Homo sapiens: one gene and its partners. The protein of the gene in region 3 purifies or fractionates together with the protein of the main gene of each other region. This does not show direct contact. Each region holds a gene or a part of one and is shown on either strand. Other genes may lie near its edges.

What was found.
Region 1: the proteins of TBR1 (region 3) and AKAP8 purify together in Homo sapiens (affinity purification with mass spectrometry, with the first as the bait; one large-scale study listed by BioGRID). This does not show direct contact.
Region 2: the proteins of TBR1 (region 3) and NFIA purify together in Homo sapiens (co-immunoprecipitation; one large-scale study listed by IntAct). This does not show direct contact.
Region 4: the proteins of TBR1 (region 3) and DNAJC16 purify together in Homo sapiens (affinity purification with mass spectrometry, with the first as the bait; one large-scale study listed by BioGRID). This does not show direct contact.
Region 5: the proteins of TBR1 (region 3) and RNGTT purify together in Homo sapiens (affinity purification with mass spectrometry, with the first as the bait; one large-scale study listed by BioGRID). This does not show direct contact.
Region 6: the proteins of TBR1 (region 3) and FAM91A1 purify together in Homo sapiens (affinity purification with mass spectrometry, with the first as the bait; one large-scale study listed by BioGRID). This does not show direct contact.
Region 7: the proteins of TBR1 (region 3) and PDCD11 purify together in Homo sapiens (affinity purification with mass spectrometry, with the first as the bait; one large-scale study listed by BioGRID). This does not show direct contact.

Annotation. Positions count from the first base shown.
Region 1 is NC_000019.10:15,366,288-15,369,787, forward strand, and holds part of AKAP8 (A-kinase anchor protein 8), read right to left. Parts: intron 2,036-3,500; coding exon 1,948-2,035; intron 1-1,947. UniProt on the Homo sapiens protein: Anchoring protein that mediates the subcellular compartmentation of cAMP-dependent protein kinase (PKA type II).
Region 2 is NC_000001.11:61,379,561-61,383,060, reverse strand, and holds part of NFIA (nuclear factor 1 A-type), read right to left. Parts: intron 1-3,500.
Region 3 is NC_000002.12:161,415,026-161,419,096, reverse strand, and holds the start of TBR1 (T-box brain protein 1), read right to left. Parts: upstream 2,801-4,071; 5' UTR 2,687-2,800; coding exon 1,995-2,686; intron 1,422-1,994; coding exon 1,267-1,421; intron 897-1,266; coding exon 775-896; intron 206-774; coding exon 47-205; intron 1-46. UniProt on the Homo sapiens protein: Transcriptional repressor involved in multiple aspects of cortical development, including neuronal migration, laminar and areal identity, and axonal projection.
Region 4 is NC_000001.11:15,533,348-15,536,847, reverse strand, and holds part of DNAJC16 (dnaJ homolog subfamily C member 16 isoform 1 precursor), read right to left. Parts: intron 2,612-3,500; coding exon 2,545-2,611; intron 374-2,544; coding exon 34-373; intron 1-33. UniProt on the Homo sapiens protein: Plays an important role in regulating the size of autophagosomes during the formation process.
Region 5 is NC_000006.12:88,614,119-88,617,618, forward strand, and holds part of RNGTT (mRNA-capping enzyme), read right to left. Parts: intron 278-3,500; coding exon 154-277; intron 1-153.
Region 6 is NC_000008.11:123,788,939-123,792,438, forward strand, and holds part of FAM91A1 (protein FAM91A1), read left to right. Parts: intron 1-674; coding exon 675-807; intron 808-3,500. UniProt on the Homo sapiens protein: As component of the WDR11 complex acts together with TBC1D23 to facilitate the golgin-mediated capture of vesicles generated using AP-1.
Region 7 is NC_000010.11:103,399,626-103,403,125, reverse strand, and holds part of PDCD11 (protein RRP5 homolog), read right to left. Parts: intron 3,339-3,500; exon of another isoform or gene 3,296-3,338; intron 2,730-3,295; coding exon 2,598-2,729; intron 9-2,597; coding exon 1-8. UniProt on the Homo sapiens protein: Essential for the generation of mature 18S rRNA, specifically necessary for cleavages at sites A0, 1 and 2 of the 47S precursor. Directly interacts with U3 snoRNA. Involved in the biogenesis of rRNA.

The DNA of each region.
Region 1 (3,500 bases), on a different chromosome or scaffold from region 3:
TCTCTTTATTAGATTATTTAAGTTTAAAAATAATTAAAAAGAAAATGTCATCTCAGTTTCCATGTGACATGAAAAGTCATCTACTCTATCCATTTATCTGTTTAAAATAACAAGGGTTTCAATGTTCCTGTACCACTTAAGAAGAAACAGTTCTGCGTTTGGTTCCTGGCTTCGTTTTGCTAAGCATTTCTCTCTTTTTTTTTTGAATCCTTGATTTAAGGTTCACATGGAACAGTGATTTTCTTTTTTTTTTTTTGTTCCTGAGATGGAGTCTTGCTCCGTCGCCCACGCTGGAGTGCAGTAGCACAATCTCGGCTCACTGAGATGGAGTTTTTATTTGAGATAGAGTTTCGCTCTTGTTGCCCAGGCTGGAATGCAGTGGTGTGATCTTGGCTCACTGCAACCTCCACCTCCTGGGTTCAAGCAATTCTCCTGCCTCAGCCTCCCGAGCAGCGGGGAATACAGGCATGCGCCACCATGCCGGACGAATTTTGTATTTTTAGTAGAGACTGGGTTTCTCCATGTTGGTCAGGCTGGTCTCGAACTCCCAACCTCAGGTGATCCGCCTGCCTTGGCCTCCCAAAGTGGTGGGATTACAGGCGTGAGCCACTGCCCCCAGCCCGTTTCTTTTTCTTTTTGAGACAGAGTCTTGCTCTGTCGCCCAGGCTGGAGTGCAGTGGTGCAACCTTGGCTCACTACAAAGTCCACCTCCCCAGTTTAAGTGATTCTCCTGCCTCAGCCTCCCGAGTAGCTGAGATTACAGGCACCTGCCACCATGCCTGGCTAATTTTTGTAATTTTAGTAGAGATGGGTTTCACCATATTGACCAGGCTGGTCTTGAACTCCCGGCCTCAAGCGATCCGCCAGCTCAGCCTTCCAAAGTGCTGGAATTACATGTGTGAGCCACGGCATCTGGCCCCTTTTACTAAGCATTTCTTTGAACACGACAATCACTGCCCAGACTGGGCGCAGTGGCTCACGCTTGTAATACCAGCACTTTGGGAGGCCAAGGCGGGCAGATCACAAGATCAGGAGTTTAAGACCAGCCTTGCCAACACGGTGAATCCCGACCTCTACTAAAAATACAAAAATTAGCCAGGCGTGGTGTCAGGCGCCTGTAATCCCAGCTACTCGGGAGGCTGAGGCAGGAGAACCGCTTGAACCTAGGAGGCAGAGGTTATAGTGAGCCGAGATTATGCTATTGCACTCCAGCCTGGGCGACAGAGCAAGACTCCATCTCAGAAACAAACAAACAAAAAGAAAATCACTGTCCCATGTGAACCTTAAGGTCAAGGATTCCCCAGCATCACATGATCACTGGTGATTTCAGTTTCTAGTCAGAAGCCACTTAACTCCTGGCAGGGAGAGGCAGGCACATGGTGTGCTCACAATGACATCCTTTGGGCTCAACATTTTTGCAATCCTTTTCTATTGTGGGACAAAATCTTGATGGTAGGATCATCTCTCTACCTGTCTCCTAGCTGTGTCAAACTCCAGGGGTGGTCTGGATTTGGATAAGGTGAACACAGGACAGTGTCTGAGATGCCAGACACCAGGCTAGGGGGCAGGGATGCCCCTCAGGCCTGCAGGAGAGTAACAGAGCCCGCTGCTGAGCAGTTATGGACCACACAGACCCACCAGCAAGGCTGGGATTCCAGAGGAATAGAGACACAGGAGTCAAACACCAATCCTCTAAAGCAAGAACAGAAACCTAACCACCAAAGCAACGTCCCAGCCATCCTAGAAGACAGGTAGCTCGTGTGCTGGGAGCACGAGTGATGGTCTTTTCTGCACTCCCAATTGTTTACTGTTTTGCCTCCCACTGGTTTGGCCAGAGGAGTCAGGCCACCAGGCCCCCAGCATTGTGGAGCGAGGACAGGTGAGCTCGGCAGCGCCTCCACCGCACGAGTCCACCTCCTCCTGTGGGGTCGTGTGCCCGCGCCTCACCTGTCGGCTGCACGGTCCCGCGTCCTGTCTCTTCTCCTTTGCTTTTCCCTTCTCTTCTTCACATCCTCGTCCTCGTCCTCCTTCTCTCCTGTAACAGACAAGTCCCTTCGAGACGCTCTGAGTGGCCTGCAAAGGAGCTGAGCTCCAGGGCCTGGTCGGGGGGCTGCAGCTTGGCCACCGCACCCTGTGCCCTGCCACTGCCTGCACCACGCGGCAGGGTCCAGGATGCCCCAAGGCACTGTCAGAGACTCCTGGTGGACACGGGCCTGGAGTGAGAGCCCGGAGTAGTCACCAAACTCCCCACATGGCCTGAGGCGGCCAGGATGGGCTAGGGACACAGCCTGCCCACCCCATGTGCACCACAGCCCCCTGCTCCCTCTGTCCTCCCCATTCTGCTTGTCCAATCTCATGCCCTGCGATGGGGTCTTCTCCCAATATCACAGGAGAAGCCAATTCTCCCCGGATGAAGAGGCGGCAGCTGAAGGCCTCAGGAAGTGAAGCAGCTGCTCCGCCGCCCTCTATCCCACCTCTAGGTGGACTGTGACGAGCGTCCTGGCGGCCCCGTCTGAACTAGGGCCTCAGCAGGTCTGACAGTCCTTGCTGGCCCGACCTCTATCTTCCACTCACAAAAACCGTCAATCTAGGGCTTTCCCAGGGCTGCGTGGGAAGCAATCCTAGAAAAAAATTTGGGAAGAGACCAATTGGTCCTCCCGTCCGTCCCCCGGGGCCAGCAGAGGAGCTCCTCGGAGAGCCACGCGGCCATCATCCCAGCATGAGGCCAGGGACGGACGCTGAAAAAAGGTTGGAGAAGCATCTGAACTGTAACCCCTACCCCTGATGCCAGTCCCGAGACTGTCCCACGAAGATGGCGACCGGCGTGCGCTGCTCAGAAGCCTCTCAAAAGGGCGTGTGGGATTTTTGGCAAGAGGTCACTGCCTGAAACTATGACTGCTGTTTAATAGCAAAGTCATCCCGGGTAGGTAGCAGGACCTGCGCGCAACAGACATGTCACCTTTGCTTTAGCATTGTGCCGCTAAGCGCTCGGGGCGCCCCGTGCTATGGACAGGACTGCTGCGGGTCGCGGGGGGGAGGACCGCAGAGGGCTGGCAAAGCCTGAACAGGAGGAACATCTAAGCCAAGGGCCTTCAGAATGGATGGGAGCAGGGCCACTGAGGAGCCAGCCTATGATCCTTGGGGTAACCAGCTACGGAAAGACCCACAGGACAGGTAAAGAAACGAGTGGCTTCAGGGTGAGCTCCAGGCCGCGGCACCTCAGGCCGCTCTGCCATGAGGGATTTAAGCCTGCTCTGCTGTTGCTGCAGACCCTCTGGTCTCCTGCATTGGACATGAAGAGACCTGCTGAAGGGCGCCCGCCTCTCAAAGACCCAGTGGGCCTGGGTGCTCCCGACCCCGCAGGTGTCTGCTGTCACACACTCGCAGGCACGAAGCAATGTGCAGTGCAGCTGCCAGTATCCCCACCACAGAGGCCCACAGCACAGCCCAGGGCAGGCGACTGAAGGAACTGGACAAAAGGAAGCCCCAGAGAAAACACT
Region 2 (3,500 bases), on a different chromosome or scaffold from region 3:
GTCCCCTGATAAGTCGGTCTGTATTTGATTTCAATTTATTCTAATTAATCACAGTCCATTTTTGGGTTATTGGTCTTCAATAATAATACAGGGTTCAACTTTTCCAGTGTTTCCTAAAAGTTGCTGCTTGTGTCTGTGACCTCTGTGACTCCCAAAAAGGAAACCATGTATGCTTATGAAGACTTCACATGCAATCGTTTCATCTTGTTGGTTACCTTGCTTTGACACCAAATCACTTTCTCCATATTTTAAATAATTTGGCTGTTTTAACATAAGAATACCCTCAACAATGGCAACTTAGTTGTTCATTCAATGAATTCTTTAGAATAGAAAAAAAGAAAAAAGAAAAGTAAAAAAATCTTAAATGCCCTACAATTGGGGACTGGTTAAATAAGTATGGTATAACCAATGTAAGCAATACTGTAAAAGAGTAATGATGTGGCAAAACATTTATAATATAATGTTAATTGAAAAAGGCAATTACAAAATAGGATGTTATACTATGACACCATTGAAAAGGCTATTTCTATGCACAGAGAAAGAACTGGAAGGCAATATGCATAAACTATAATGGTAGTTCTCTCTCTGTATTGAATTTGGGTGATTTTCATTGCCTTTGTTTTGCTTACCTGTCTTTTCTATGATGAACATATATTGCTTTCATGTTAATACAATAAAAGCTTGTTTTTAAAAATAGTACTTTTATTATTGTGTCTAAAGTTTTCACAGCATTTCCAGCATAGAAAATGCTTTGGGAAGAAAATAATGGAGAAACAGTTCCTTGTAATTACTGGATTTGTAATGTTCTCGGCAACCACGCTGACATACCCAACTGGAGGCATCTATCAGTTTGATAGGGTGCCAATTAAAACAATGAAAATTTGGATATAAAAATAAAAGAAATGACTCCTAGTCTCCGCATCAGGGGACAAATTTGGGCTCTCTTAAGGTTGTAGCACAAAACTGGTCTGCACTGATGTTAAAAGAACCAAATTCCATTTTACTTATACATGTTTACATGTGCTGTGTTCTGCCCATGACCAGAGAATTATTTGGATGAACTGGAAAAGTAATAAAAATCATAATGATATTAACATGTAACTGTTATGGAGTACCATGTACTGTGCCAAGCACTTTATAGGTATAGATCTTTCCAGAAATTTAGCTAGTTTTGCGTGTATCTAAATATGTCCCTGTTATTTCTGATCACAGATTTCCTTAATGCAATTCTACAACATGACCTTTGAGTGTGACTCAGACTGTATAAGGACAGAGTCCTTGTCTGCTTTGTTCCCCTCTATGTCCAAGACCTCCAAGGGTCTGAAACACCCAAATGGTCTGAAAAGATATTTAAACTACTTGTGCAGGTCTCAGCTTTATCTGTAGCTTCATGAATAGATGCTTAAACATAGCAAAGCTTAGAATTTTCACCCCAAGAAAGAAAAATTGAAAATTGGTAAACACATTTGCATAGTCAGATATAAGTACAACATAGAGTGGTATGTGATTTCATACTAATTTGACAATTTGAATCAGATCCTTTCTAGATCAACATCCATGTGATTTGAATTAAAAATGAAGTAATTAAGTGACTTTAGTTATATTTGTTGCTTGCTGAATCAGTAACCAGTCACACCATACCAAAGTTCTAATGTAGGATGCACTGAGATTTTGGGTGAACATTCACTGTAAGATAACCTAACCTAAGGTTATCATCATGTAATTCCACTAAGGAGGAGATTTCAAATAAAAAAAATGAAAGAAATAAAAAGCTAGCAAAATGTAAACAAATCTCCCAACTCATTTAAACCTTTTTGTGTAGACCAATTTATAGGCTGCCAACCATTCCACTGATTTAAATTTAGTCCAATGCCTGAACTACATGTCATAAAACAGAAGCAGAACAGATAATTAAAACAAAAATCAAAACTTTAAAGGTGGCAGATTTTTTTTTTTTTTTCAGATAATGGAATCACTGATGAAATCCAGTATCCTAACTAATCTTATTGATGATAGCAAATGGCTGGACTCAAGAAAAAGTTATGATTTCTTTGAAAAATTCATGTTTTCTAATTCATGCCATTCTAAATACTGCAGAAATATTGACATGATTGAAATCCACTATTTATGCTTCTAAAAGGAATTACAAGTAAAATTTGGGCAATAACAAGTATCAAGAATGACCAAGTTGGTAAACAAGTTCAAAAATAGCAAAATTTAAATCTTCTTTGCAAGGGTTAAAGACGGAAGAAATACCGTCAGCATGCAGGAACAACCAGCCAAACTATGTATAATCTTCTAAATTTATCACAGTCAAGTAATATGAACCCTAAGGCTGTCATGAATCTCAAAATTACTTTGTGTTTTCAATTTTTAAAGAGTTCGTATTGAGCACATTTCCTTATTATATACTTTAATATTTTCTCTACATACATAATGTATGTTTTGGTTAATTTGTTTTGTATATTTAATTGACCAGATGAAATTCCAAAATGCTAGTAAACTGCTTTCTGTTAAAAGCTAGAAAACATTAATGTTGGCTTTTATTTTTGAAATCAAATTTGGTTCTGTACATTACTTTAAAAATAAACTCCTTTTTAAAATCTCTTTTGCCAATTATTTATGCACAACTGTTACAAAATTACTGTATGGATTAATGACTGATTGGCTTTCTTTCAATGCATTAAAACTTTAATTTCAATGTATTTTCTAGAAGTACCAGATTTTTAAAAAAAGACTACGGATGAAGTAATCCTACTCTTTTTCTGGAGGAAATGAAATGTTACTTCAAAGTTCAATGCAGAAAAATAAAGACTTTTGTAGAATGAGAAGCAGAAATCTAGCATAATGTTTTGTTTCAATGGGGCATTTCATCCTTTTGATTGGTATAAAAAAACCCAATGAGAGTAAATAGAATTGGAGAAACATGTCAAGAAGGCCTGTGGCTTGTCACTGGTTTTCTAAACATCCAGAATTTTTGAATTTTCAATTTCCCTCTAGTCTGCCATTTTTTTCTAAGCTATATGAGTCATTCCAAATTGTGTTCAGTAGACAAGGGCAAACATATATGGGATTCTAGTCATGTAGTGGCTTTCATCTCTGGAGGCACTTATAAGTGCAAAGTTCAACAAGAAAACCTTGAAAATACAGGTCAAATGCACTATTCACAAAGATTCCTTCAAATTCATCATTGGTATTTGTGGTAGTCAGGCTGGGCTGGTGGCTCATGTCTATAATCTCAGCACTGTGGGAGGCTGAGACAGGAGGATTGCTTCAGGCCAGGAGTTCGAGAGCAGCCTGGACAATATAGTGAGACCTTATCTCTACAAAAAATTAATTTTTAAAAGTTAGCTGAGGCCAGGCACGGTGGCTCATGCCTGTAATCCCAGCACTTTGGGAGGCTGAGGTGGGCAGATCACAAGGTCAAGAGATCGAGACCATCCTGGCCAACATGGTGAAACCGCATCTCTACTAAAAATACAAAACTTAGCTGGGCATGG
Region 3 (4,071 bases):
GATGTCTGTGCCGCCCGCCTCGCCCCCAGCCCCTAGGTCTCCTTACATCCGTGTTCTGGTAGGCGGTGACGGCGATGAACTGAGTCTCAGGGAAAGTGAACGTCTGCACGCGGCCGGGCTGGCTAGTGTCCTCCGTGCCGTCCTCGTTCACTTCCACCACATGCAGGCGGGGCTGGTACTTGTGCAAGGACTGTAAAACCACCATCTGTCCGGCGGGAAGAAAGGGGAGCGCCGGGTGGCGTGTTAACGCGGTCGCTGTGCGCGTGGCTGTGTGCGCCCGGCTGCGCGCCCGGGCCGGCGGAGGCAGCCTGCAGCCCGCCTTCCAGGCTAACTGACCGCGGGACTCGCCTGGCTGGCGGCTGGCTGGCTGGGGCAGACCGGCTTTCGCACCTCTGGGAGCGAAGATAAGCCGGGGCACCGGAAAAAAGGGGGAAGCCGACCGCCCGATCCTCAGGGCCCTTCTCCTAGTCCTCCTGTAAGGAGGAACAAAGATTTCCACAACCTGCAGATCTTGTGGGGTTTCTTCTCAAAATCAATCAGTATTAGTACTTGGGAAGGTCGGGCACTCCAAAATTGGGCCGACGGAGGTGTTGCCAATGAGAACAACTTTACAGATTTAATATAAATTTGGAGGGTGGAAATACAATTTTTAAGTCTTTTTAATGAAGCAAAGAAACGTGTATCCAGTTCCATATGCTGCTTTACACTGACGAACTGGATGTCAGGGAGGAAGGGGTGAGAGAGAGAGAAAACACGAGCGCTTGAGCCACTGACCTGCCCATTGTTATTTGAAGCTCCTTTGTTGTTCGTAAGTTTTAATTTTCCAAAAGAGATTTCTTGGCGCATCCAGTGAGCCCCAGTGTTGGGGGAATCCGGATGCATATAGACCCGATTTCCTAGAGAAAGAAATACATTGTTTACATATGCCCCTGGCACTGCCCAGTCCCAGCTCCTCACCACGTAGGACACACACACACACACACACACACACACACACACATACACACACCTTACTCCACCATGAAGCCCATTAACTGGGGCTTTTTTAGGCCATTCTTTCTTCCTATTAACTGGGGGTGATTAAAATAGCTTTTGCATAATCCTCCCCCTTCTCGCAGCTCAGTCTGTCCCCCTGTCCCCCTCGTTTCCTTTTAGAAGTCATTGGCCGATCGTTTTAAAAGTCGCTCGAGCCAGTCCACAAAGGCTTTAATTAATCATTCTCACCTAAATAAGTGTCAAGAAAATGTGTTAATTGGAAGGACTTGCCTTGCACATTGGTGTCCGCTTTGCCGCAAGGAACCCATTTGCCTCCTTGAAACCTCCAGTGATTGGGATCCGCCAAAATCACATCCACAAAAATATTGTAATGAGCCGTGGGATCGAGACCAGAAATGTTAAAACTTAAAAAAGGAAACATGCGCCTATTTAAATTAAGGGGTGGGGGGAGAAAACAAGGAAAAAAGAAACATAAATGTTAAAGATTAAATGCAAGAAGCGGGGCGCCAGTTAGCAAAGCAAAACTTGTACTTGCAGCAAATAGGCGAATATTTGCTGGATTAGAAAAAGGGTGGTGGGAGAAGAAAAGAAGTGCAACCCAAATCAGGGAGAGCGGCGGGTGAGCTGGAGTGGGAAGGTGGCAGTTATCACTGCCCAGGTGGAGAGCGAGGTTGGCGACCTGCGTCTCCACCTGTCCGTGCATGCCAGTGTTGATGCGTCCCTCCCATCGCCCAGCCGCTGGCCAGGGCTCTTCCTTTTTCTTGCCTTCCTCTGGCCACTGACTGGCTCTCCCACTATGTTCCTAGAACGGGGTCCCCCCCACCAACATCACCCTGGCGGTTATCCCTTCCACTTTCCCCCTTTCCAAAACTAGCCAACTCTAGGGCGCCTTCCACTCCGCTCCCGACCCCAAATCGTCGCTGCCGCGGCAGTCACAGCCTAGGTGCACTTGTCCCCGGCTGCGCCTAGAGCAGCGGCAGCCAAAAATGTAGTATTACCTTCCCTGTTTGGTGATGATCATCTCCGTTTGGTGCCGGTGAAATTTCAGCCAAAGGGGCCTGTTGCACAGGTACACCTGTGCTTTGCCGGGCACCAGCCCCGGCTGGGTGGAGGAGAACTGGTAGAACGGAGCTCCTTGGTAGGAGTGGCCGTACTGCTGTGGGTAGGGGTAGCCGGCCGTGGGGTATCCCTGCGGCGAGGAGTTGGACAGGAGGCTGTTGTAGGCTCCGTTGGTGATGACCGGGTGGTGGGCCATGTAGCGGCTAGGGCTGCCGATGGAGAAGGCGGGGTGCGCCGGTCCGTGCTGGCCGGGGTACGGGAACATGGCACTGGGAGCAGTGGCCGCAGACTGTGGCTGGCTGGACTGAGAGAGGAGGTAGCGATCTGCAGCAGAGCCATCGAAACTGTGACGAAGCTCAGAGACCCCGTCCAAGACAGGAGAGAGTTTACTTCTCTGGACGTCCCCTGGTGAGTCCTTGGAGTCAGGAAAATTGTCTGTATCTGACTGATTCGTCATCCCCCTGGTAATTTTTTTCAAAGGTGAACTTCTCTCCAGGTTGTCAGTGGTCGAGATAATGGGATGATCGTGCAAGACAAGCTCGGATCCGCCTGAATGTGGGTAGCTGCTGCTCACATTGAGAAATTTCTTGGAGAGCATGATAGAAGGAGAAAGGCAGTGCTCCAGCTGCATAGCTCTAGAACCTGAACACTCGCCCTCCCGTCCCTGGTTTTTAAAGTCCTATTTATCATAAACTAGAAATCCACAGACCCCCTCACTAGACAGAAAGCACTTCAACCAGCAAATGCTTCTCAAAGGTTTGATTTACTTTTTTTTTTCCCTGGGAGAAGAGATTGGCCAATTGACACTATGCAGCAATCAGAAAAGGCTCACTTTTGATCTTGCTGCTTGTGCAGCCGATGAAACGGCTCCTGCCATTGGTTAGCTGCTGACAGTAATTTAATTAGATAGACATTAATTAGGATAATCACCTGGCTCCTGGTAGCGACGATCATGGCAAATTGAAGGGGATGATTTTATTGTTGGCTTGGGGGGTGGGGAATGTGTGTTGGTTTACGTGAGCACTGTTGTGTCACCTTTAAGCTCTGTGACCACTGCTTTAGGAAGATTCAAAGATGTGGAATTTACTAAACATTTCCTACCTTCCCCCCCTTCCCCCCTTTAGAGCGGAGGGGCGGAGGAGGGAATTCGACGATGCTAGGAGACTTTTCGGATCTGAATGAGCCAAATATTCAGTTGAATGTAACGATTTCAAGTGCAAAGTATACAAAGCGCGAGCCGGTGGCCTCTTCTCGCCCTGTAAAAGTTCCAGAGTCTGTCTTTTCCAGCTAATACAAAAGCACACAACACCTGAGCTGGTGCTTTGTGAGCAGATCCTACATGTCCTCGGCGCCCCCACCCCCACCTTTTAAACTGCAAACATAAATAAATAAATCCCTGCTGCTGAGAGCCACAGCGACAAGCAGAAGGGGGGAGGAGAGGGGGCGAAAAGCAGCAACTCACCCACCAATCCACCCACCTCAGGAAGGTTCGGTTTCTTGGTTGAGTACAGAAACAGTGACAATCTATGATCTCCTTTTTAAGTTTTGAAATAATCATAAGCTGTCGGGCTGAAATGCCTTAATGTATTTGCAGTGATGTTTACCGGCTCTTTATTAAATATTTTATCAGCGCACTTGGTTGCAGATTATCTGAAGAACATCTAACTGGGGGCAGGCGCCATGCATCCTTCTCGTCCCTCTGCATTTCCTTCTCTCTGAGGTACTGGCTTGGCGACAGGTTCAAAAGCCTCGCCAGGAAAAGAGAGGGCCGAGTCCCCGTGCAAATGGGCTCGTCAGAAGCGCTGATCTGGGGAGACAGAGTGGAAGTGGTGTCAACACAGTAATCGCTACTGAAAACGTGTGTGTGTGTGTACGTGTGTGTGTTTAATGTTTATATAATCTGGAGGGGAGAAAAAGCATCCATGCCAATAATTTTTAAAAGGAAAAAGAATCTAAAGAGGAATAGAAAAAAACCAATTTAAAAAGATGTTGGCACAAATAAATAGCACGAGGCCC
Region 4 (3,500 bases), on a different chromosome or scaffold from region 3:
ATAAATATCTTTCAGTGAATAAAATTATCTTACCCAATTCTTCCAGTTCTTGAATGACTTCTTTCCACACAGGCTCGATATGAATGCAGCTAAAGCACCAATCGGAGGTGATCTTGATGAGGTAGGGTTTCTTGAAGCTATCTGGAACCACTTCATTCACATAATGTGAAAAGTGCAATAAATACTTTTCGTCAATTGAGTCCCGCCGTTCAGAATTAAAAGGGAAGTGAAAAAAGGATTCATCAAAATAAAAATTTTCATGGAAATGGCGGAAGCGATACTCTCGCTGCTGTTGCTGCTTCTGGTAGCCCTGGTTCTCTCCAGCGTCTCCATATTGATCATAATTTGATCTCTTTTCTTCATTTGAAAGAATCTATAAAGGAAGAAAAAAATCTAAACAACAACAAAAGGTTCATCCAAAAGACTTTTTTGTAAGCAGCTTGAAAGACATAGGAAGAAAATAAATGCAGCCAGTCGTGGTGGCTCACACCTGTAATCCCAGCACTTTGGGAGGCTGAGGCGGGTGGATCACTTGAGGTCGGGAGTTTGAGATCAGCCTGACCAACATGGAGAAACCCCGTCTCTACTAAAAATACAAAAAATCAAATCAGCCGGGAGTGGTGGCGCATGCCTGTAATCCCAGCTACTCGGGAGGCTGAGGTAGGAGAATTGCTTGAACCCAGGAGGCGGAGGTTGAGGTGAGCCGAGATGGTGCCACTGCACTCCAGCCTAGGCAACAAGAGCGAAACTCCGTCTCAAAAAAAAAAAAAAAAAAGAAAAGAAAAGAAAAGAAAAGAAATGTAAAAATTATGACACGATTATGTGAGGCCAAGGTTTGGAGGATCCCTTGAAGCCAGGAGTTCAAGACCAGCCTGGACCACATAGCATGACTTTGCTACAAAAAGAAAAAAAAAAATCGGCCAGGCATGGTGGTGCGTGCCTATAGTCCTAGCTACTTGGGAGGGTGAGGTGAGTGGGAGATTGCTTGAGCCCAGTAGTTGAAGGCTGCAGTGAGCTGTGATCGCATCACTGTACTCCAGCCTGGGTGACAGAGACAGACTGTCTCTTAAGAAAAAAGAAAAAAGATTATGACATAATTAGATATTCTTTTTCTTTTCGAGATAGAGTCTCACTCTGTCACCCAGGCTGGAGTGAAGTGGCGTGATCACAGCTCACTGCAGCCTCCATCTCTCAGGGTCAACCTTCCATCTCAGCCTCCTGAGTAGCTAGGACCATCAGCACATGCCACCATGCCTGGCTAATTTTTGTATTTTTCACCATGTTGTCTAGGCTGGTCCTGAATTCCTCAGCTTAAGCGATCTGCATGCCTCAGCCTCCCCAAGTGCTGGGATTACAGGGCGTGAGCAGCCACTGGGTCCAGCCGATTAGATATTCTAAATGCAGTCATTCAAAAGAATGAGAAACTCTTCTTTCACTAGAGAAACATTAAAGAACATTCAAGACTAAAATATTTCAGTTTAGGTACTCATGCTCATCTTGGCATTAAAGATTTCAAACTACCACAACATTAAACACTTCAGCAAAACAAATAAAATAACATAATGTTGATCACCAGGGCTCAATGACAAGAAAATTGACCTGGTCATACCTGGTGAGTTGGACCAATTCAAACCAAGATAAGAAAAGCTATGAACACCAAATAGCTATAGTCTAGTGCCTTGTCTGTTAATTTACTTTGTTTTACAAAATAACTTTGAAGTCTAAAATTCAGGAATCTGTTTTAGAATGATGACGTGTTATTCTATGAGCTAAGCACTGTCTGCTGAAGGGCATTCCCTATACAAATCAGAAAGCCACTGAATTCTCTTTGATGCATATTCCAGACCAATCTACTTGAGCTGACATACTGGAAAATTACTGAAAATCTTGTGTTTAAATGTATTTGTTACCTCGTGCCACTTTAATAAATATAGGCGATTTGGTATGTGATTCTTTAATGCATATTTCTAAGAAGGCAATAGTGACACATACAGACATACTCAGGGTAATTCTACAATTCTAGTTAAAGCCTTTAAAATAGGCCAGTTTTTCCAAGAGCTGAAGTGTTCAGGCACTTGTTCCAATATACTGGATGTGGCCAAATATGTTCTATTATTTTTTATTTTATTTTATTTTTTGAGACGGTCTCCCTCTGTTACCCAGGCCTCGATCTCTGCTCACTGCAACCTCCCACTCCCGGGTTCAAGCAATTCTCCTGCCTAAGCCTCCTGAGTAGCTGGGATTACAGGCACGTGCCACCACGCCCGGCGAATTTTTTTTGTATTTTTAGTAAAGACAGGGTTTCAGCATGTTGGTCAGGCTGGTCTCGAACTCCTGACCTCGTGATCCACCCACCTCGGCCTCCCAAAGTGCTGGGATTACAGGCATGAGCCACCGCATCCAGCCTGTTCTCTCTATTATAATCTAGAAACTGCATCAAGGGCATGGGGAACATGACCTTTCTGACAACTTTACAAAACTCATCACCTCCTAAGGCATATTTTGTAAGAGCTAATGGATGCATCACAAAGCTGGACACGATACCTCGTAAGCCTTACTGATTTGAATGAACTTGTCTTCTGCTCCAGGATCTTTGTTTTTGTCAGGATGCCTGAAACACAAACAGGCAGGCGGTGAGAAAGGATGTAACTTTTAATGCACAGTCATTTAATGTCCTTGTCCACAGAGTTCACTACAGAGGCAGACGGAGGGCTATTTTGTTAGGAAAGTTTCTTAAAATAAATGATAGAGGCAATCAGTTGTTTTACATGACTATAATAAATGAAACTTTGAAACAGGCTATTTTTTCCCAAAGCACTCCAGCAGGGCATGTTTTCAAAGCACCATATAATACTGCAGCATTTCACAGAGGAAGGTGGGAAATGGTGCATGTCTGTACACTGCTCCCAAACACTGCTAAAGCTGGCTGAAGGCTAAGTCGTTTATCCATAAGAACCCATGTCTTCTCCTAGGATGGCAACGTTTCATCCCAATGCTAGAATGATATCAGGATGCTAGAATGCTGTTGTTTCTTCTGATAACACAGGTAGACATGAGAAATAGCTTTTAGGATAGACTAAATTCATTTAGTAACAATCAGGTTTCAAACTGCACTTGTGCCTGACTTTCAAATTAGAACATTTTTCGTTATTATTACGATTGCTTTTTACCTGGATAAAGATTTCAAGGCCACTGTTTTTTTTGTTTTTTTGTTTTTTTTGAGACAGGGTCTCACTCTGTTGCCCAGACTGGAATGCAGTGGTACAATCTTGGCGCACTGCAACCTCTGCCTCCCAGGCTCAAGCGATTCTCTTGCCTCAGCCTCCCGAGTAGCTGGGATTACAGGCCTGCGCCACTATCACCCGGCTAATTTTTGTATTTTTAGTAGAGATGGGGTTTCACCATGTTGGCTGGGCTGGTCTCAAACTCCTGACCTCAAATGATCCACCTGTCTCGGCCTCCAAAAGTGTTGGGAATACAGGCGTGAGCCACCACGCCCG
Region 5 (3,500 bases), on a different chromosome or scaffold from region 3:
GAATACAGACTTGACGTATCTTTCCCATCAAACAAGGATGAAGTCCAAATGACTATGCCCCATTAAGCAAAACAACAAAGGCAGCACACTTTGGGTCTAACACCTTAATTTTTGTTTTAAATATAATAAGCACTGGTAAGTTGTCATACTCACCCATGGCAGTGTTGTAGGCATTAGGAAAACTTTTGTCTGTTCTCTGTCTCATGAAGACCCAGCTGTTGTTCTCAAATTTGCATTCTATAATTTTGTTGTCATACTGTTTCAGCTCTTTTGTCACCTGTTTTGAAAGAGAATTGAGGAAAATATTTAAATAACTTGAAAGGCTTTTTGCTTCTACTATGTGACAGGCACATTAGGAAATGATAAAAATACCTCAGTAACTCTTCATGCAGAGAGCTCTTTGTCATCTGAAGTATCTAATCAAGCTTAAGGTATGGTGTGCACTCCCTTGTACACATGCTCACTTATCCGACATTTTATAAATAATTGTGAAAATGGCTGTCAATATATAGCAATTAAAAGAAGCTAGGCAGAAACCAGCCATGCTGGGCCAAATGCAAATATGTTACCATGGGGACCAATACCTTCAATATTGTCTGTGTCTCTACGGCTTTCAGAAATTGAGTATACTGCCTAGGTTTCATCAACTTTCAGAAAGGTCTAACCATCTAAATTCCTATGTTAAAATCTAAGAAATGCCGTGTACTAGTTAAATGAAAAAGTTACATATCAATAGTGAATACTAGGATCAAATTCAGGCAATGTACATCCTAAATATTTTGCTTTCCAAGCAGTGACAATTAACCAACAATCTAATCTTCAGGAAACTTAGCCTTTCCATCCCCAAACTAGTACAAATTTACAGATGAAGCTATTTGTGACATTAGTTGATGGGTTTTTTGGCTTCTTCACCTCAGATGACTGAATATGGATACTCTATCAAAGCTAACAAGTATCCATGGTAACTACGAACCTTTTAAAAGATATTTCACTGGGCTGTGAGAATGGTTTTCATAAATAGGAACCTAAGCTTATCTTTGTAGTTTTCAAATCAAATGCCAGTCATGGTAATATTTTAATTCTGTCCTCATCTTTCATGGCTAACAACTTTTCCTCACAATATGGTAGACTGCAATCATTTAACTTCATTAGCATTATCTGAAACATTCTCATTTTTCTACCCACATATTCACTACCACCTAGGAATATGACGAGAAGTAAGTTTTTAAAAGATGCTTTCAATTCGCAGATTAGGCAGCACATGTCTTCATAAAAACTTTCAAACTATATTCCTTTCCCTTTACATTTGATTGTACCATCTGCATTTTCAACAAATCCAACAGGTGCAATACACTCAGTGGTTTTGGAACTAGACATGCCCAAAAAAGTGATATTCCAAGTAGCAAACTTGCCAAATTTATCCTCAAATATTCATTATTTTAGTCTCAATTCTCTTGCCTTGCTTTCTAGGGACCCATTCTTTTATTTTGGAAACACTGTGTATATGCAAGTATTGGACAACTCATTCAGTTAGGTAAACACAGTTTTGCTATACCACATGTAAGGTCTAACAGAAATAAGTTTCTAAACCTTTCAGTGTCTATTTCCTAATTTCTAAAATGGGGAACAAGTTCCTAATTTACTGGGTCACTGAAAGAATAATAATTGAAAGTGCCTGGGACATAGAACAATCAGTAAAATTGTTAACCAAATATAAAATTAGGCAATGAAACATTGCTTTTTAAAATCTGTGGTAAAAAAACATTGAATTTTCCATCTTAACCATTTTTAAGTGTACAGTTCAGCAATGCTAAGTGTATGTCTAGAACTTTTCCATCTTGCAACACTGAAATGCTATACTCCCTAAACACTAATTGCCCCCCTTCCCCTCTACCCAGACCTTGATAACTGCCTTTCTACTTTCTGTTTCTATGATTTTGACTACTTTAGATACTTCATACGAGTATTAACAGAATCACACACTATTTGTCCTTTTGTGATTGGCTTGTTTCACTTAGCATAATGTCCTTGAGGTTTATTCATGTTGTAGCATGTGACAGAAATTCTTTCTTTTTAAAGGTAGAATAATATTCCACTGTATGTATACACCACATTTTCTTTAGCCATTCATCTGTCAATGGACACGTGGGCTGCTTCTACCTCTTGGCTATTTTGGATAATGTTGCAAAGAACGTGGGTGTGAAAATATCTCTTTGAGATCCGGTTTTAAATTATTTTGGCTATACACCCAGAGGCAGTATCACTGGATCATAATTTTATTTTTAATCTTTTGAGGACCCCTTTGTTTTCCATAATGGCTGCATCAATTTACATTCTCACTAACAGTATGCAAGGGTTCCAATGTCACATCCTTAACACCTGTTAGTTTTTGTTCCTTTTTTTTTTAAAAAAAATTGACGCCCATTGTTTACTGTGCTCTAATTTAAACTTTTTGTTCTTTCATAGTGGCCATCCTGATGGTGTCAGGTGCTATCTCATTGTGGTCTTGATTTGCATTTCACTAATGACTGAGAATCTTTCCATGTGCTTATTGGCTGTATACTTTCTTCAGTATACTTTCTTCAGTATACAAGAAACTTTGTCAATTTTTTTAATTGGGTTGTTTATTGTTGTTGAGATGTAGGAGTTCCTTATATATTCTGGACATTAACTTCTTATCAGATGTACAATTTGCAATTATTTTCTCCCATTCTGTAGGCTGCCTTTTCACACTGCTGATTGATTCCTTTGATGTACATAAGTTTTTAACTTTGATGTAGTCCTCTTTGTCTATTTTTTATTTTGTTGCCTATGATTTTGGTGTTGCACACAAGAAATCATTGCCTAATCCAATGTCCTAAAGATTTGTCCTGGCCGGGCACAGTGGCTCACGCCTGTAATCCCAGCACTTTGGGAGGCCGAGGTGGGCAGATCATGAGGTCAGATCGAGACCATCCTGGCTAACACAGTGAAACCCTGTCTCTACTAAAAATACAAAAAGATTAGCCGGGCGTGGTGGCAGGTGCCTGCAGTCCCAGCTACTCGGGAGGCTGAGGCAGGATAATGGCATGAACCTGGGAGGCGGAGCTTGCAGTGAGCTGAGATCGTGCCACTGCACTCCAGCCTGGGCAAGAGAGGGAGACTCCATCTCCAAAAAAAAGATTTCTCCTATGTTATCTTTTACAAGTTTAATAGTTTAAGGTCTTATGTTTTGGTCTTTATTTTTGTGTTAATTTTTGTATATGGTGTAAGGTAGGGGTTCAACTTCATTCTTTTGCATGTGGATATTGCTTTCCCAACACTGTTAGTTGAAGATATTGATTGTCCCTTCCCATTGTGTAGTATTGGCGCCCTTGTGGCAAATCATTTGGCCATATATGCAATGATTTATTTCTGGGCTCTCTATTCTGCTCCATTGATTTGTATCTCTATCTTTATGCCAGTAATTAAGTATGCCATCTAAATTAGATGCTTTGAAGTATGTTTTGAAATCAGGAAGT
Region 6 (3,500 bases), on a different chromosome or scaffold from region 3:
TTATTTTCCCGTTGGTAGACCTATCATTCCATTTTCTGTGTTGTTTCTGGGATATATGTCTCTACTTATTAAAAGGTGACTTATTCAGACTTATTCAGAAGAGCATACATTAAACTATAAGGCCAGTGAAGGCAGGGGTTTTGTCCATTACTCTATCCTTATCTCCTAGGGAGGTCATAGTCCATAGGAGGCACTAAGTAAATCTTTGTTGAGTGAATTTAAGCTGTGTGTTCAGCAATGGTGAACAGCTATGTTGAATCACAGACTCCAGTGTCTCTTGTAACTGGTAATACAGAATTGTGAACAAAGTTATGAGAATTATAGGTAAAACTGGTGACCTTGGAGTACTTTCCTAGATGGAGCAGAATACGGGTTTTAGAGTTGTTTAAGCACTCTATTTGAATCATTTGGAACATGTAACATATAATGCTATAACTTAGCATTATTCAATTGCTAAAATTGTTAGTCTTAGTTGAAGTAATTTCTATCTCCATAGATGTAGTAAAATTGGGAACTCAACCAAGACTGAGGTTAATAACTTGTTTCGGTATTGCCTGGGCAAATTTTTGATTTACTACTTTTGAATAATGTCTTATATCTCTATTATATGATTATTAGAGTGAATGGCATAAAAGTGGTATTTTTGTTGCAAAATCTATTTTCTCTTGGTTTAGGTTCAGAGCACTGGTGAAGGAGAAGCACAGAGATATTTTGATCATGCACTTACTCTGAGAAACACAATACTGTTTCTGCGTCATAACAAAGATCTAGTTGCGCAAACTGCACAGCCAGACCAACCCAATTATGGTATGATAAATATATTTAATTTTGAAGACATGATCATATGAAACTTTTTTCTAAGAAATTAAACAGATCATGCTCACTTATATAATCATCACTTACGTATTTTGTGTAGATAGCATATTGAATTTATAACTAGAGGCCTGTTTTGTGAATTTCTTGCTTGTTAACTGTTTCTTAACCTTATTTTACTTTTCTCATGTGCCACTAACATTTGTAGTATTTAAATCTGTTCAATACCTGCAAAAGTGTTGGTGTTAATTTATTTAAGTAGCTGGATGGAATTTAGAACAGGCATCAGCTCTGAGGGGTGAACAAGGGCAAAATTTTAGTTAATGTAGGAAGCATAAAATTTCAAGAATGAAAGATTCCATCATAATGAAAAGAATAAAGAGGAGCCTTCTGTTCAAATGCTACTGCAATACTTACCAAAAGATTTTACTTTTAAAAAGGAAATAGATAATTCTTTTTAAAGAGTAAAAGAAGTAGCAGCAATTTTAAGGTATTGATGAACTTTAATGGAGCTGTTGCCCTACTGGGCACTCTCAGTTTTGTGATAGTTGGGGGTTCCCAAACTTTAGTTGAATTGATGGTGTCAGAATTTCTACCCAGATGGGGATTTGGATTCAGTAGGTTTTGAGGTGTGGCATGGCACTCAGGAATGTGTGTTTTTTAAAAGATGATTCCAGTGCTCAGCTAGGCTTGGGCACCCCTGCATGAGCACTTGGCTCAAGTTCTTAGACATTCACAAGAGTTGTGTCTTGGGGCTTCATGGGTCCTCAATACCACTATAACGTTTAATTTTGATTAGTTTCATTTACCTAAAAACTATTTTTTCTGGCCAAGAACATCAGTTTCTTAATCATCTCCATTTTCATTTATTCTCTCACTAGCATCTGGCTTTCTTTTCAGCTCAATTTTAAAAATTGAGGGAGGATTCAGCTGTTACTTAACAAGCTGTCACATAGGTGAGAACAAACATGCTGGGTAGTTTACTTGAGTGAGGCTAGACTCACTTGGTATCAAGTGATTCACTTCTGCAGCCTTAATATGCCTTATCTGAAGAATTACAGATTGTTACATACTGGGGCTTTTGAGATCATTCATAAATAGTTAAAACTGAGAATATTAAATTGCCAAATGCCGAGAGTCCTAAGCACTTACTGGTAGGCATTTGTTGATGGATAACCATTTTTGGTTAATAAATACTAAATCATGTGATAAAGCAGTGGTGAGTGGCACAGTCTTGAGGATGTCTTTGGATATAAAACTCCTGGAATTTCTGGGACTTTTTAGTGATTTATGGAGATAATGTATTAGATGATTTGAAATACTCTGTTAAAGCTGTCTTGAAATACATTGTCCTTTCCTGCCTATCACAGAATGTGAGAACATTAGAGAGTACTAGTGACCAGTGAAGTGTAACTCCTATTATAGATAAAGAAATTGGAGTTTATATTAGCTAAATCTTCTGCTTGTTTTTTAGTCATCAAAGCCCATATTATTAGTAAATGGAAGAGCCAGGAATGGAAGACTTGAATCTGTGTCTGTTGATTTTTTTTTTTCCATTGCCCTGTCCCTATATTATCTTCTCTTGAACGCTAAGCTTTGTATTCATTTACCCATAAACATTTGTTGCTTAGTAGTCTGGGCTGGGCTAAATTTTTTCCCCATGAATAGTCAGTGTACCATGAAGTAAGTTAAATGGTAAATCTAAACCTATTCTCTATGAAAATAGTCCTGTGCAATCCTAACCTTTAAGGTGGGTTTAATGTTAGACTGTTCCTGACCCTAGTTGGAGATTTAATTGCTTAGAATAATTGCTGGGTCTCCAAAGTTAAATTTGATGAATGCCTCCCCTTAAGACCAAACCTGCAATTACTTATGAAATTTCATTTTTGCTACCAGCATTTCTTAGCTTAGCTCCTCATCTGAATTGCAGAACATGGAAATGATTGGCGTGACTATTTCTCAGTTTTTCTAATGATGGTGCACATTAGTACCGTTCTCAATGCATGAAAAAGGTCATTCGTTCTATGTAGAGGATATCTTAGGGCATTAAGGCTTCATGCTCAGCCTGTTGAGAAATGTTGCTTTCTGCAGTTACTGGGCTTGGTAACTGAACCTTACTCTTTTTTAGAAAAGAAATTCTCTGCCGGGTGTGGTGGCTCATGCCTGTATTCCCAGCACTTTGGGAGCTCGAGGCAGGCGGTTCACTTGAGGTCAGGAGTTCAACACCAGCATGGCCAACATGGTGAAAACTCGTGTTTACTAAAGATATAAAAATTAGCCAAGTGTGGTGGCAGGCACCTGTAATCTTAGCTGCTCGGGAGGCTGAGGCAGGAGAATTGCTTGAACCTGGGAGGCTGAGGTTGCAGTGAGCTGAAATGACACCACTGCACTCCAGCCTGGGTGACAGACTGAGACTCCGTCTCAGAAGAAAAAAAAGAAATCCTCTAGTATTGGTGTTTTAAGCGTCTTGTTTGAGGAAAAAGAATTTTCTTTTTATGTCACTAATAATTTATACTTTGAGTATATCATGTAGTACTTGTTATCTACTATAAAGCAAAAGCATTGTGATATTATACAAGCAAACTCTGTTATACATGGAACTAGTGTCTTAGTCCTAGGAGTCCTTAATCCCTTGGTTTTAAATAGCACGGCGTACTGTTTATAAATAAAAGTCATGCGTGGTCTGT
Region 7 (3,500 bases), on a different chromosome or scaffold from region 3:
CACAGGGACTAGAAGAGAAAAAGTGAAATGTGTACAATAAGGATGGGAACAACAATAGGGAAGGTTGGAAGGTCTGGCTTCTAGTGTCAATTTAAAAGCTATAAGGCCAAGCACAGTGGCTTACGCCCTATAATTCCAATACTTTGGGTGGCCAAGGCAGGAGGACTGCCTGGGCTCAGGAGTTTCAGACCAGCCTGGGCAACGTAGTTTCTCCAAAAAAAAAGATTAGCCAGGCATAGTGGTACACGCCTGTAGTCGCAGGTACTCGGAGGTGAGTGGATCGCTTGAGCCAGGAGGTTGAGTCTGCAGTGAGCTGTGATCACACCACTGCACTCCAGCCTTGGCAACAAAGTGACACCCTATCTCAAAAAATAAAGATAAAAAATAGGCCGGGTACAGTGGCTCATGCCTGTAGTCCCAGCACTTTGGGAGGCTGAGGCGGGTGGATCACCTGAGGTCAGGAGTTCGAGAGCAGCCTGGCCAACACGGCAAAACCCCGTCTCTACTAAAAATACAAAAATTAGCCGGGCATGGTGGCAGGTGCCTGTAATTCCAGCTACTCAGGAGGCTGAGGCAGGAGAATCACCTGAACCTGGGAGGTGGAGGTTGCAATGAACTGAGATCATGCCACTGCACTCCAGCCTGGGCAACAAGAGTGAAACTCTGTCTCGAAAATAAAAAAATAAAAATAAATAAAAAATAAAAACCTACAGGAATTTTATAAATGAAAAGAAATACACATGTGTACATATCAGTGAACTTCTCAAATATCTGACCGAGCACTGTAAAAGGTCTAGATTATACAACAGTGTTAACAGCACTGGGATACTGGAGGACACCTTTGCCTTTTACATTATTCTGAGCAACCCAAACTCAAATGCCTGGCAGACAACACAATGAAGGAAGCCAGCTAGTGGAGACAATGGCAGTCTGGAGTGACCATGCCAGGTCTAAAGGACACAACCACTACTCAGCTCCTTGTCATTACAAACATGAGGGAATACGGGCCTTCTGCTATCAGTACTTTCAAATTTTTACAAGAAGCCAGAAATCATATTTTCATGTAAAAAAATTTTTAGTTTTCAGCCAGGTGCAGTGGCTCACGCCTGTAATCCCAGCACTTTGGGAGGCGGAGGCGGGCAGATTACAAGGTCAGGATATTGAGACCATCCTGGCTAACATGGTAAAGCCCCGTCTCTACCAAAAATACAAAAACTTAGCTGGGCGTGGTGGCGGGCGCCTGTAGTCCCAGCTACTCAGGAGGCTGAGGCAGGAGAATGGCGAGAACCCGGGAGGCGGAGCTTGCAGTGAGCAGAGCAGAGATGGCACCACGGCACTCCAGCCTGGGCGACTGTGCGAGACTCCGTCTCAAAAAAAAAAAAAATTTTAGTTTTCTAATGTTGGCACCAAGTCTAACAATTTTTTTAAAGTATCATATAGGACAAAATATTGACTCTGAATCTAGCCAAATATGAATGTTCCTCTTCAAAGTTATTTAACTTCTTTTCTTTTTTATAACTAACACATATTGGTGTTATCATCTAAAAATGTAAGGCAGGCTGGCCGCGGTGGCTCACGCCTGTGATTCCAGCACTTTGGGAGGCCAAGGCAGGCAGATCACGAGGTCAGGAGTTCCAGACCAGCCTGACCAACATGGTGAAACCCCGTCTCTATTAAAAATACAAAAATTAGCCAGGCGTGGTGAGACACCTGTAATCCCAGCTACTCAGGAGGCTGAGGCAGGAGAATCGCTTGAACCCGGGAGGCAGAGGTTGCAGTGAGCTGAGATCACATCACTGCACTCCAGACTGCGCAACAGAGAGAGATTCCGTCTCAAAATAAATAAATAAATAAAATAAAATAATTTCAAAATTAAAAAATAAAAAATAAAAATGTAAGGAACACAGACCACTTCAATTCTTGGAAATGGGTTTCACATCTATGAAATGAATGGGTAAGATGAGAATGACTGCTAAAGTTACTGTCCATTCTAACCTCTGAATATATCAGAACTCAAGTCCTGTGAGGACACAAACAAGCCCACGACAGCTTTAAAGGAAAAAAAGGGGGCAGGCACGGTGGGTAGCTCATGTCTATAATCCCAACACTTCGGGAGGTTGAGGCAGGAGGATTGCTTGAGCACAGGAGTTCGAGACCAACCTGGGCAAAATAGCAAGATCCAAGCCCTACAAAAGATTTAAAAATTAGCTGGGCATGGTGACACACACCTTTAGTAGTCCCAATTTCTCAGGAGAAGCTGAGGCAGGAAGATTGCTTGAGCCCAGGAGTTCAAGACTAAAGTGAGCTATGATCATGCCTGCATTCCAGCCTGAGCAACAGAGTCAGGCCTGTCTCTGGAAAATAATAAATAAATACAAAGAAAAAGAAAAGATTCCTGGCATCGGTTAGCAATGGAAGGAAATCATGCTTACTCCTTAGCATAAATTCCAAGCATCTCTACACACACACGCATGAAATATAATATATTAAGGGGAAAATGGAATTAAGGGAAAAAAGAAGGAAAGAAGAAAAAAAGAACATACACAAACTTAAGCAACCAAGGTCGATTGTTTAAATGAAAACCAACTTTAACAAACCTCAACACTAAGGATTTCAAACTTCTCTCTTGCGGACTTGCTGCTTTCTCTCTTTTCGATTTTCAACTTTTTTGTTTTTGCTGGCCCCTTCTGGCTCTTTTTTCTTTTGGTGGATCCCTCTTCAGTAGAAATCTAGAAGCGGGTAGGGGGAGCCCACAAAGACCCAAAAGAATAAGAAGCAATCTGAGTTTTCCCTCCTATTTCAGGTCATCACTCACCTTGCTTTGTTACTCCTTCACTCCACCCTACCCCATCCCACTCCCAATTGTTCCTTTAATTCTTGCTTAAAAAAAAAAAAAAAAGGGGGGGGGCCGCCAATGTTCCCTCTGCCCAAGGTCTGAGAAGCCTCCTTCATGTTCCCAAAGTCTCTTCTCTCTTGTGTTCTCCCTCTCTTGACTGGGATGAACACTGGGTTCCCCAGTTTGAGAAGCAATGTAGAATAGTGCATGAAAATGGACACCAGAGTTACACAGACCCAAGTTAAATTCTCATCTTTTCCACCATAACAAGCTATGTGGTTTCAGCTAAATTATATAAAATCCAGGCACAGTGGCTCACACCAGTAATCCCAACACTTTGGGAGGCCAAGGCGGGAAGATCACTTGAGATTAGGAGTTCAAGACCAGCCTGGCCAACAGGCTGTATTTTTTTTTCCACTAAAAATACAAAAAAATTAAGCCGAGCATGGCAGCACGCACCTATAGTCCCAGGTACTCGGGAGGCTGATACAGGAGAATTGCTTGAACCAAGAAGTGGAGGTTGCAGTGAGCTGAGATCACAACACTGCACTTCAGCCTGGGCGACAGAGCAAGACACTGTTCCTCATCATGGAATTGCAATCAGTGCTTCACAGTACAGTTGAAAAGATTACATAATACAGACCTAAAGCCACACACTCAAATG